2 separate regions of the Homo sapiens genome follow, and region 1 is linked to region 2. Evidence: fine-mapped expression QTL. A gene starts in region 2. The other region holds a variant in brackets. All regions are shown on one strand. Distances are from middle to middle.

Region 1 (5,379 bases), 20 kb before region 2:
TTAGCCGGGATGGTCTCAATCTCCTGACCTCGTGATCCACCTGGCTCGGCCTCCCAAAGTGCTGAGATTACAGGCTTGAGCCACTGCGCCCGGCCTGTAGAGCTATTTTAAAAAAGAAACCACTGTAGGTTTTGCCCTACATGGAGTGCCAGGGAAAGTGGATCATCTAGGATGACTCCGAGGTTTTGACCAGAGCAACTGGAAGAATAAAGTTGTCATTTACTGAGACAGCACAGACTGTAGGGGAGTGGGTTTTGCGATGAGTGCCAGGAGATGCTGATTCTATATCCAAGGGAAGTTGTTAGGGAATTGAATACACACATCTGGACTTCAGAGAAGTCTGGGCTGGAGAAAAGGTTTAGACCTTGTCAGTGTAGAGAGATGGCTTTGCGACTGGCTGAGAAAGGACAGAAGAGAAGGGAGGGGAGAAGAAGAGGGAAGCTGGAAGGAAAGAGGAGCAGATAAGTCTGGAGACTGAGCCTGAAGCCCTTGATGCACAGAGGTTAGGGAGGCAAGAAGGAACCAGAGAAGGAGACTGCAGAGGAGCATCCAGTGAAGTTGTTGGAGAACCGAGAGAGTGGCATCTCCAAAGCTGAATGGAAAAGCTGCTTCAAGAAACTTTGCCTAATTCTGCTAATGGGTCAAGTAAGGGGAGGCCTGATTATGGACCATGGGATTTAGCAACACAGAGAACGCTGGTGACTTTGACAAGAGTGTGTCTGGGGGAGGGTTGAGAAGAAAATTCAAGAATGAGCTCACCTCAAGGGGAAAGACAGGCCAGGGACATTGGGTTGCGGGCTATAGAAGGGTTACACATGGGGCAAGCTCATAGGGAGCTGTCTGGAGAGAACTCTTTTGAGTGCCTCTGCATGGACAGGAGCTGGGGGAGATGTGGTATCAAGGGGAGGCTCCTAAAAATGAGAAGTATTCTGGCCTGCTTGCATACCAATTATCCAGCAGAGGGGAGAGACAGATAATGCAGGAGAGGGGATAAATGCAGGAGGGGAAGGTTAAAGGGGCTGGGATGCATCGTTCAGGTGGCAGGTTTGGCTTTAGATAAGCGCAGGGACGATTCTTCCATGATACGAGGAGGGACTGCAGAGTGCACTGGCACAGCTGCAGGAAGATGGGAAGATGTGGTTGGGGTAGGCCATGGAAGTTCTTTTCTGGTTCTATTTCCTCAGTGAAATAATGCGCTTTCAAAGGGAAACTCATATAGTAGTGCTGGAAGTGTAAATGAGCCTTTTGATATTAGGTTTCCCAGTCTGGCAGCTGGGCATCCTCCTCCCCAAAGCAAGAGTACCGGGATATGCCAAGGGGTTCTTAAAGCTGGAACTCATGGATTTCCCTGGCTGATTGGAGCATCACTGCTGCCAGCAAAGCCCAAGGTATAAAGTATGCATAAAGTCACTATGGTTTGAACTTTTAATAAATTTTACTTCCATGTAACGTATAGATAATTTGTGAAATGCAACCGAGAGATAATTTACAAAATATTTAAATAAAGTTGCTAATGTTTGATTTTGTTCTTTCTTTTATTTTACAGGTGTGAGCTCTACATTATGCTGAGATGGCTATGTACAAGTATATCCAGAATGACGGTGGATACGTTGAAAGTCCAATCAACTGTGCTAAATCTTGAATCAGTTCTCTCTGTTGCCTTTTGCAGGTTGTTTAAGTTTTGTATAGAAGTGGATATTTTGAACATTGAAACTGCACAAGGGCTTTATGGTTGCTCTGCTCACCTCTATTTCTTCTTCTCCTGCTAGGAAACCCCATTATCCTCAGAACAAGTCTCTCCACCTCCTGCTCTTGCCTGATGCTGTATGGCTCTGATGGCTTGTCCTGTGTCCCCTTAGCCCAGGTGCTAAGTGGTCTCTGTTCCCTTAAAATAACTGTTTTGGGATGTTATGGGTCCTGTTTTAAAAATCCCCTCATCCCTCTTCTTTTCTCTCTTCTAAAGGGCAGCCTTACCATCTCCTTTTAAGAACAGAAGTCTTTTCTTTCTGCCTCTTAAAGTCAGTAGCTGGTTTGTCACCCAATAACAAAAGCCCACAATATCCTGACCTCAAAGACTAGGAAGGTAGGTGGTGCTAAGGTCAGGGATTGGGAGTCTTAGAGAGCCAGCAACACAGTGTCATCTCTCTGAAAAGTAAATTTCCAGTAGCTAGCAAGAGATTTACAAATGCTGAAATCTCTTAGTCTACTAATTCCTTTCATACAATCAAAGATATGTGCAAAGATTTATGTTCATCATACTGTCACTCCTCATAGAGAAAAGCATGGGAGTAACACCCA[T/C]GTCTGTCAGTAGGGCTTGGATGGATAAAGTCTATTATTGAGTCCTTTGCAATCATTCAAAATCATGTTTGAATATAATAGATGGGAAAATGATCATACTATAATGCTAATTGAAAAAAGATATAAAACTGTATATATGTTCTCATCTCAAATTTTTAAAAAATAAAAATGTGCTTATTTTATATATATAAACATATATATATAGTTTATATTTAAAAATAAAAATGTGCTTAACTCTGAAATTTGTCTTTTTGACTTAAGGATATATTATGGACATCCCTTTAGGGTCATATTTATAGAATTGACTCATTCTTTTAAATTATACTGTATTTTATTGTATGGCTAAATTGAAATTTATTGGACCATTTTCTTATTGATGAAATTCAAGTGCTTTTAGGTTTTGTTCAGTTTTTAAAATTGTAAATGGACAATTTATAATTATATAGAACTATGGGGTAAAAAGCACTGTTATGATTTATGAATACAATGTGAAATAATTAAATCAAGCTAATTAACATACTCATCATCTCAAATACTTAACATATTTTGTGGTGAGACCATCTGAAATTTACTCTCTTAGCAATTTTGAAATGTGCAATACTCTATTCTTAACTAGATTCACCACACTGTGTAATAAAACTCCGAAAAAGAAAAAAGCAACATATTCCTCCTATCTAGCTGAAATTTTGTACCCTCTGACCATCAGCTCTCTGCTCTCTCCCCACCCCCTACCATCTGTAACCACCATTCTACTCTGCTTCTATGAGTTTCATTGCTTTAGATTCCACACATAAGTGAGAACATGCAGTATTTGCCTTTCTGTGCCTGTCTTACTTCACTTAGCATCATGTTCTCCAATTCCATCCATGTTGTCGCAGATAACAGAGTTTCCTTCTTCTTAAAGGCTGAATTGTATTCTATTGTGTATATATGCCATATTTCCCTTATTCACTCCTCTGTTGATGGACACTTAGGTTGATTCTATAACTTGGCTATTGTGAATAGTGCTGCAATGAACATGGGGGTGCAGGCATCTCTTTAACAAACAGATTTCACATCTTTTGGGTAAATACTCAGAAGTGGTATTGCTGGATCATATAGTAATTCTATTTTTAGTTTTGGAGACACCTCTAAAATGTTGTCCATAATGGTTGTACTAATTCATATTTCTACCAACAGTTCACAACAGTTCCCCTTCTGCCACGTTCTTGCTGACATTTATTATCTTTTGTCTTTTTGATAAAAGCCATTCTGACAAATCTGAGATATATCTCATTGTGATTTTAATTTGCATTTTCCTAATAATTAGAAATGTTGAACATTTTTCCACTTACCTGTTGGCCATTCGTGTGTCTTCTTTTGAAAAATGTCTATTCTTATGTATTTTTTTTAAAATATGGTCATAGCAGAAAATAACTTCAGTGTTAAACCACAGTTATCTCTGGGAGGTTGAATATTGTGTAATTAAACATTTTTAATTTTAAATTGTATATTTTTCATGTTTTCTATACTGAGTATCTTTCTTTTAGAATCAGAAAAATGTACAAATAATTTAAAACAAACGCCTTGAAAAATGAACAATCTTACCTAGTATTCAAAGAAATGCAAATTAAAATGTTATTTTTGTTTCTATCTCAGTAAATAAGGAAATATGGAGTAAAAGAGTAATCTTCCTGCTGAGCATGTTTTGCGGTTGCCAGCGCTGCCCCGGGTGTGTCTGGAGGAACACTCCCTGTTGCCTAACAACTGCTGTAATGTAACGGAAATAGAAGCACGATGCCACACATCCCTCAGAAAACGACTTGGCCCTTGGCCCTCCTGTGGATGAAGAGTATATTGAAGAGAAACTGGATATTTCTAAATTTGCTAAGACTCGCTTTTCTCACTTGCTCTCAGATCACACTACTTTTGAGTAGCCCAAAATTTTGTTGCCAACTCAGCAAGTTAAGCAAACAATATTACAAATCATGTTGAAACTGAAGTGGTCCCCATGGGCCAGTGAGTACGGTGCAGGTGGAGAAAAAATTAGCTGCTGAGTTAGGACAAACTGCTCCAATTTTGAAGGCACAAATGGGCATCATCTTGGGCCCGGGTACTACCCAAGGTGGACCTCTCAATCAGGCTCTTATGCTCCCAGGTGTAGTTGTTGGGTGAACTCTCTCCCTGGATGCTCAGGGACAGCATCTCAGAGAGAGGTGAATGGAAAAACCATGAGACCCTGTACACACTCTAGGTGCAATGGATTACAAGGGTTGATAGCTCTTCTTAGTAACCGAAAGCCTATATGCTCCATCTTTCTTGATGGCAAGGTCCCTGGGAAGGAGACATTCTCTTAGAATGTCATTAAATGACCATAGAATAAGCATGAAGTGAGTGGAATTATGTGGAAGGGATTCAGCATTTTACCCAAGCACTGGGCAGCCCCTGGGTGTGGCTGTCCCTCCACAGTGGCCTGTCTGTCTAAGTCTTGACCCACCCACCCAGATCCTCTTGGAAGCCACTGATAGCATTTGCCTCTGGGAATTCTGCAGCCTTTGCTGATGAGTCTCAGTTGACACCATCTATCATTGCAGATACAGATGTCTCCAAAAGGCAATTGCCAAAGGCTGTGCCACACAGCACACACCTGTCCATGTGCAGATTGATTCTGTTAAACTCTTCAGCTATCTTGTGGGCTGCTTTTCCCTGCCTCATTATCTGCCTGCAGACCTTCCTTCTGTGTTCTCTGCTCTTAGAGGTCAGATTGATCTGTATTTTTATCAAGATGAGGAAGGAGATGGTAGACTGTGAATCAAGGATCTACCTCTCCCAGTAATTCACTGTGGCATCTTGGGGCACCTGCTGGCCCTCTCTGAGCCTCCATTTTCTTACCCACGAAATGTGGATTTGGACCCAGTTATCTCCAACCACCCAAGAGTCTGTGATTCTGCTACTAAGAAAAGCAAAAGGCAAGTACAAGATAGCATGTGTTTAGTTGCTGGGGAAAGCTCAGTCTAATATTAAAAATAATAAGTATAAAAATAATCACCACCATTCACTCGAGCTTGCTTTGCCAGTTCTGCACTGTGATCTTTGCAGGGG
Region 2 (5,379 bases):
GTGATCACCATAGAAGTCAGACTTGTGGTTCTTTGTGGGAGAGGAAGAGGCTGTGGTCAGGAAGGGACATGAGAGAGGCTTCTGGGGTTCTCTTTCTCAGCCTGGATGGTAGTAATGTGGGAAATTAAATCTAATACTTTGCTAACCCAGACATTGTTCTTTCAGTGTGTTGTATTTTGCAATAAACAAAATACAACACACTGAAAAGAGACTTTCCATTTTCTCCTTAAGCACACTTTAAGGGGAAAACAAAGGTGGTCTAGGAAGATGTTTAAAGACATATGATACAGCTTTTCTTCCTTACTCACAAGCTAAAAAGCTGCACTTTGGCCAAACAAGATGAGGGGGTCGAAGCATCAGCTGTGGCCAGCGTGCCGTGAGAATCCCACCTGTGAAGCAGCCAGCAGATTCTGAGCCCCTCAAGAGGGCAGGTGGGATCAAGGTTCAGCTAGAAGCCCCAACTTTCCCCTGGCTCTTCTGGGCAGAGTGAGTGATGCCAGAGAGCCCAACTTCTCGGAATGCCTGGGCTGTGCTGCTAGGAATCAGAACAAGTCCTTGGGAAAGGCAGCCAAGATCTGGATTCTGCCATTCTGGTTCCACTCCCTCCTATGACCGTGACCTGCTGTGGAGCAGCAGAAGTTCCCCTCCTTGTTCAGCTCCTCCATTACAGGTGCTGGTTCCAAACGTCTCTGGACTCAGGATACTGGGTCAGAGGCTGGGGCTGGGGAGGAGCAGTTGGATGCCTGGATCCCAAGAAGGAGGTTTTTTGAGGCTAGGGTCTCTGGCTAGGGAGAACCATACCTGACATTGCCACTGTGCCATAGCTGCCTAGGGCCGGGCAGGCTTCCTCCTGGGATGGGGTGGGGTGAGGAAGGGGATAGACGATCGTCCTGACTGGGTCAGCTCTAATACGTTCTTTGCTTTCCTGCCCCTACAGCTCTGGATTCTTCACAACCTCATTCAATAGTAGTCAGTGTTTTTCAGGTATCCAAACTTTCTGAGGCTCAGTTTCCTCATGACAACAACATATATCGTTTCTTGAGCATCAAAGATGGGTCAGGCAGTGTGTTTGGGACTTCCTATACCATGCCTTTAATCCTTGCAGAAAGTTGACACATACCCATTACATGGCTTCAAAGGCTGATGGACAATCTCCATTTTAAAAGCAGGAAACAGACTTAGCAAGCCCAGTGCACAGTCACCAAGTGCAGAGCCAGGACTTCATTCCTGACTTCATTCCTTCATTCCAAAGCCAAGCTGCCTATGTCCCCATCTGTGAAGTGGGGCCAGCTGAGGAGCAGGGTTCAGGAGCAGACTTTGTGGAGACTGGCACGTGGCTGATGGATAGTAGGTGCTCCCATCCCAGAGGTGTGGCAAGTGCCAGGTAAGCCTGAGCACTAAGAAGAACCACACTGAAGTTGGGCTGAGACTATTTCCTGCCCTGCCTTCCTTTGTGAAAATAAAGCCAAGCAAAGAGGAAGATGAAAGAATCCACCCTAGCCTTCCTGAGCCCATTTCTCATTCCCAGGGGTTTTGAACCCCAATCCACTGCCCCCATTCCCAACCCACAGTGGTCCTCAAGGCTCTCCAGCACAGGTCCGTCACCCACCCTGCCTCCTCTCAGGAAACCCAGCTCCCTCCAAAGCGCCCTCTGGGCCTGGGATGCCCTGAGCAATGCAAGCTTTCTTGCCTGCTTTCACGTGGTTCAATTTTCCTTTTTTTTTGGCTCAATTTTTTTCTGCCTCAAGTTTTCTACCTCAAGTATTTCAAAAATTAATTTTTTTTTCTTTTCTTTTTTTTTTTTTTTTTTGTGGAGTGGGTGTTGAAAGAATCCTAAACTTTCTTAGCCATTCTCTGGACTGAGCTATAAACTCACAAAGCAAGGATTGCAGGCTCTGTGAGGCTGTGATTGCCAGAGGCAAGGCAAGAGAAATAACAAGCCGTGGTCAGTCCTCAGCTGGGGCCTCTGATGGATTTCCTCCTGTCTTGCACTCATAATTTCTTTCTGAAGACCATGTTTTCCACCCACACAAACCTGAGCCTGAGTATCCTCACAATGGTTATAACAACATATATCAAAATTGAACACTAAATTTGTGCCAGGAATTTATTAATGGAGAAACCCCGCCTCTACTAAAAATACAAAATTAGCCGGGCGGTGGTACATGCCTATAATCCCAGCTACTTGGGAGGCTGAGGCAGGAGAATCACTTGAACCCAGGAGGCAGAGGTTGCAGTGAGCCGAGACTGTGCCATTGCACTCCAGCTTAGGCAACAAGAGCAAAACTCCGTCTCAAAAAACAAAACACAAACAAGAAAGAAAACCCAAAAAACAAAAAACAAACAAAAACCCATAGATGGTACAAAAAGTGGAAGAAAAAGGAAAAAAAAACCCATGAAACTATCTGCAATGCAGTTTCCTAGAATCAACCACAGTAATCTTTTAGCTTTTCTCTATCTAAATGTTATACATATTTTATATTTATATTAAGTGCATTTATATTTATATTAAAATACAGATACAAATTTAAAAACTCTTTATTATTAAATTTTCAAATAAAAAGCAACTTTTCAAATAAAAGCAGCGAGAACCTCCTTATACCCAACACCTGGCTTCAACTATTAGCAACCCATGGTCAATATTTCCTCTATTTCCCACTTAATGTCTCTACTGAATTATTTAATTTCACCCATAAACACTTGTGTGCATCTCTAAAAGTTAAGGACTCTTTTTTGAAAAAGACTTTAATACAATTTCTCATCTCAAAAAATTAGCAATAATTCCTCAACAGCATCCAGATGCAATTTTTCATGCTTTTTTCAGTTAGTTTAAAATCATGAGCTTTTCTCCATGTCTCTAAAATGTAATTACTAATGCTTCTAATACTATTCCACCAGGTTGAGTGTATTATAAATGATCTGATCACCCCTTGCCTCCCACTCTTCCATCCCCTTGGACATATTTAGGCTACAACATCCCCAGGAAAATGGTTTCCATTGTCTGCACGTAAGCAAACAGGCATTATTAACCTATTAGCTGTCCACTGCTCCACCCCACCCACAGGTACCCAACTAGTCCTGTGCACCTACCTGGCGTGGACTGCCAAGGGAACCTCTGGATCTGCCAGTCAGCCACCCTGTCCTGCTCAGACTTTACCAGAGACGAGTATTTCCCTTTCCTTCCCTCTAAGAGCATTTTATTTGCAGAGTTAGCCAATAGTATCTTGTTTCCTGTAAGGGAGACTATCTTTAGATGCTGCCACAGGCAAGCTCAGATACTCCAGGGTGGAGGCCAGCTGCCAACAGGAGGGCCTGACTTTATAAACCTGGAAGATCTAAACCTCAGGGAAGACTGCGGAGCTGGAGGGAGAGAGGTGCCACTTACCCCAACCTGGAGGTGGGGGGCAGGGAGCAGGCCCTGCAGTCAGCAAAGCACAGCACAGTCAGCTCTCATTAATGGGGAGCCTTCAGGAAGCTGGGAGAGCTCATGGGGCCCTCAGCTTCCCTGCCCACGAGAGGGAGCCCAGAGTACTCACTGGACCACACTGGGGCACACACAGCTCTTCTCCTCAAAGTGCAGTCCCAGGCACTGGGAGCTTATTAAAGACAGCACCTCAAGCCCTGCCCTATATCTGCTGAATTAGAATCTGCATTTTAATGAAATTCTTAGAAGAGTGATATGCATACTAAGTTTGAGAAGCTTTGGTACTGAAGGCATCTAGTGAGTACCTTGCACCTTGTAGATGCTCGGTAAATATTTTTTTCCTCACCTCTCTGCCCCAAGGCATTTAGTGGCTCCCTATACCCATCAGTCAAGGCTGAGGACACAGCTTTCACCCAGGACCTGGCCTATGCTCCTTTCACAGTCTCTCCCCCTGCCACTCTTGCCCTGCAGTGGGGAGCCTGGTGGGCTCCGGCATCCAGCCATGCTTCTGCTCCCTGGCCTGGCCAGCTTGGGGCGACTGCAACGTGAATCTCAACTGCCACTGCCTCATCACCTTCCGATCACTTCATTACCTGCCTGACCCCTGGCATATGCTATATAATTCTGATCCATCCCTAACTAGGGCCTGGCCCATGGTGGCCTTCAATACACCTTCATTAAATGGTCTGTGACCCCTTCAAGGCCCCTCTGGCCCCTTGCTGCCCACATCCCAGCCACATCCGGTGCTCCCTTACCTCTAGTCGCTGTGGTGTTCCGAGGACAGCGGGTGCTCTGTGTGCTCCCCACCTTGCCCCTCCTCACCTCCCCCAACCCCAGGACAGAGCTGGGGGCTGCAGTGCAGTGCTGCGGGCTTGGTGGCCTGCTCATGGTGGAAGAAGTCCACCAGCAGTTTTCTTTCTTTGTTCTTGGTCTCAGTGTTTGGCCACCTTTCCCTGCCTTTGGCCAGAAGGCCACAGGACAAAAGCAGAGTCAGGCCGCTCCCCATCCACTTTCTGACACTGGCCCCTCCCCACCCCACACCACCCCTTGATACCTCTCCTGGGGTCCACTCAGCTGGGCTGGCTGCCTCAGCCCCTTCCTTGCCTCTGACTCCCCTCCTCTTCTGAGGGCTCCTTTCTTGGATCTGGCCAAGACTCTCCCTCTCTTCCTGTCCCACACTCTTGACGACAGTCTCATCCACCCCACATCAGTAATCCCCTCCGTGTTCATGAGCACACATCTCTACCTCCATCCAGGGCCTGGATAATTTCCCAAGCCCATCTAACCTTCTCCGTTCTCTGTCTTTCCTCTCACCACTTACCCCACTGGCCATTCTCCACCCAGAAGCCAGAGAGCTCTTCCTGAAATCCAAGTCTGCCAACTTAAACGCCTCCAGGGGTTCTCTCATCCTGGTTTAAGTCCACGGCCTGGTAAGCACGGCCCGCCCCTTCTCACTTCCTACTGTGCTCTCACCACTTCCACTTCCCCCAACATGCCTGTGCCCGTGGCAGGCTCTCTTCCCTTCCCAACTCACCTGGCTGTCCTGTCCAGGACGTGATTTTACCCTCTTTTAAAGCTAACGGCTATGTTCCACAGCTGCTAGCAGCACAGGGCTTCATGCTTGGCAAGCATGAGAACCAGCGTCCAGTGTCAGTTGCCTTGCCCCCAAGCCCCACAGAGTGATGCCATGGCTTGGATAGATACCTGTGAATGTGTGAGGGATGGGGAGGTTATAGGAAGGGAACTCTGACCTTGGGTAACGTGCCATTTTATAGCAAGCAGTAAGCAAGTCGGTTATTTGGCCCTGAGCGAGATGTCAGCTCATCCTTCAAGGTTGCTCACTGCAAACTCAACCCTGCAAGATGGACCAAGTGAAGAGCATTAGTGCTTTGCATTCTTGACACACTCATGGAGACAGAAAGAGCCTTGGCAGCCTTCCCCCTCCCTCCACGCCT

The links. PIP is the estimated chance that this variant, and not a neighbour inherited with it, causes the effect. A credible set is the group of variants that fine-mapping cannot tell apart.
Region 1: its variant is the best candidate, but not a certain one, in a credible set for the expression of CX3CR1 in neutrophils (Naranbhai 2015, PIP 0.79).

What each region holds. Positions count from the first base shown.
Region 1 is chr3:39,257,056-39,262,434 of GRCh38, forward strand. LOC102724104 (a long non-coding RNA gene) reads left to right here. Exons shown (of 3, transcript XR_940742.4): 3 at 1,547-2,408. Among named protein-coding and RNA genes, the nearest start is that of CX3CR1, 20 kb to the right of the region's middle. The variant T/C (reference allele first, on the strand shown) is at 2,299.
Region 2 is chr3:39,276,864-39,282,242 of GRCh38, forward strand. It overlaps CX3CR1 (C-X3-C motif chemokine receptor 1), which reads right to left and starts at 3,173. Exons shown (of 2, transcript NM_001337.4): 1 at 3,091-3,173.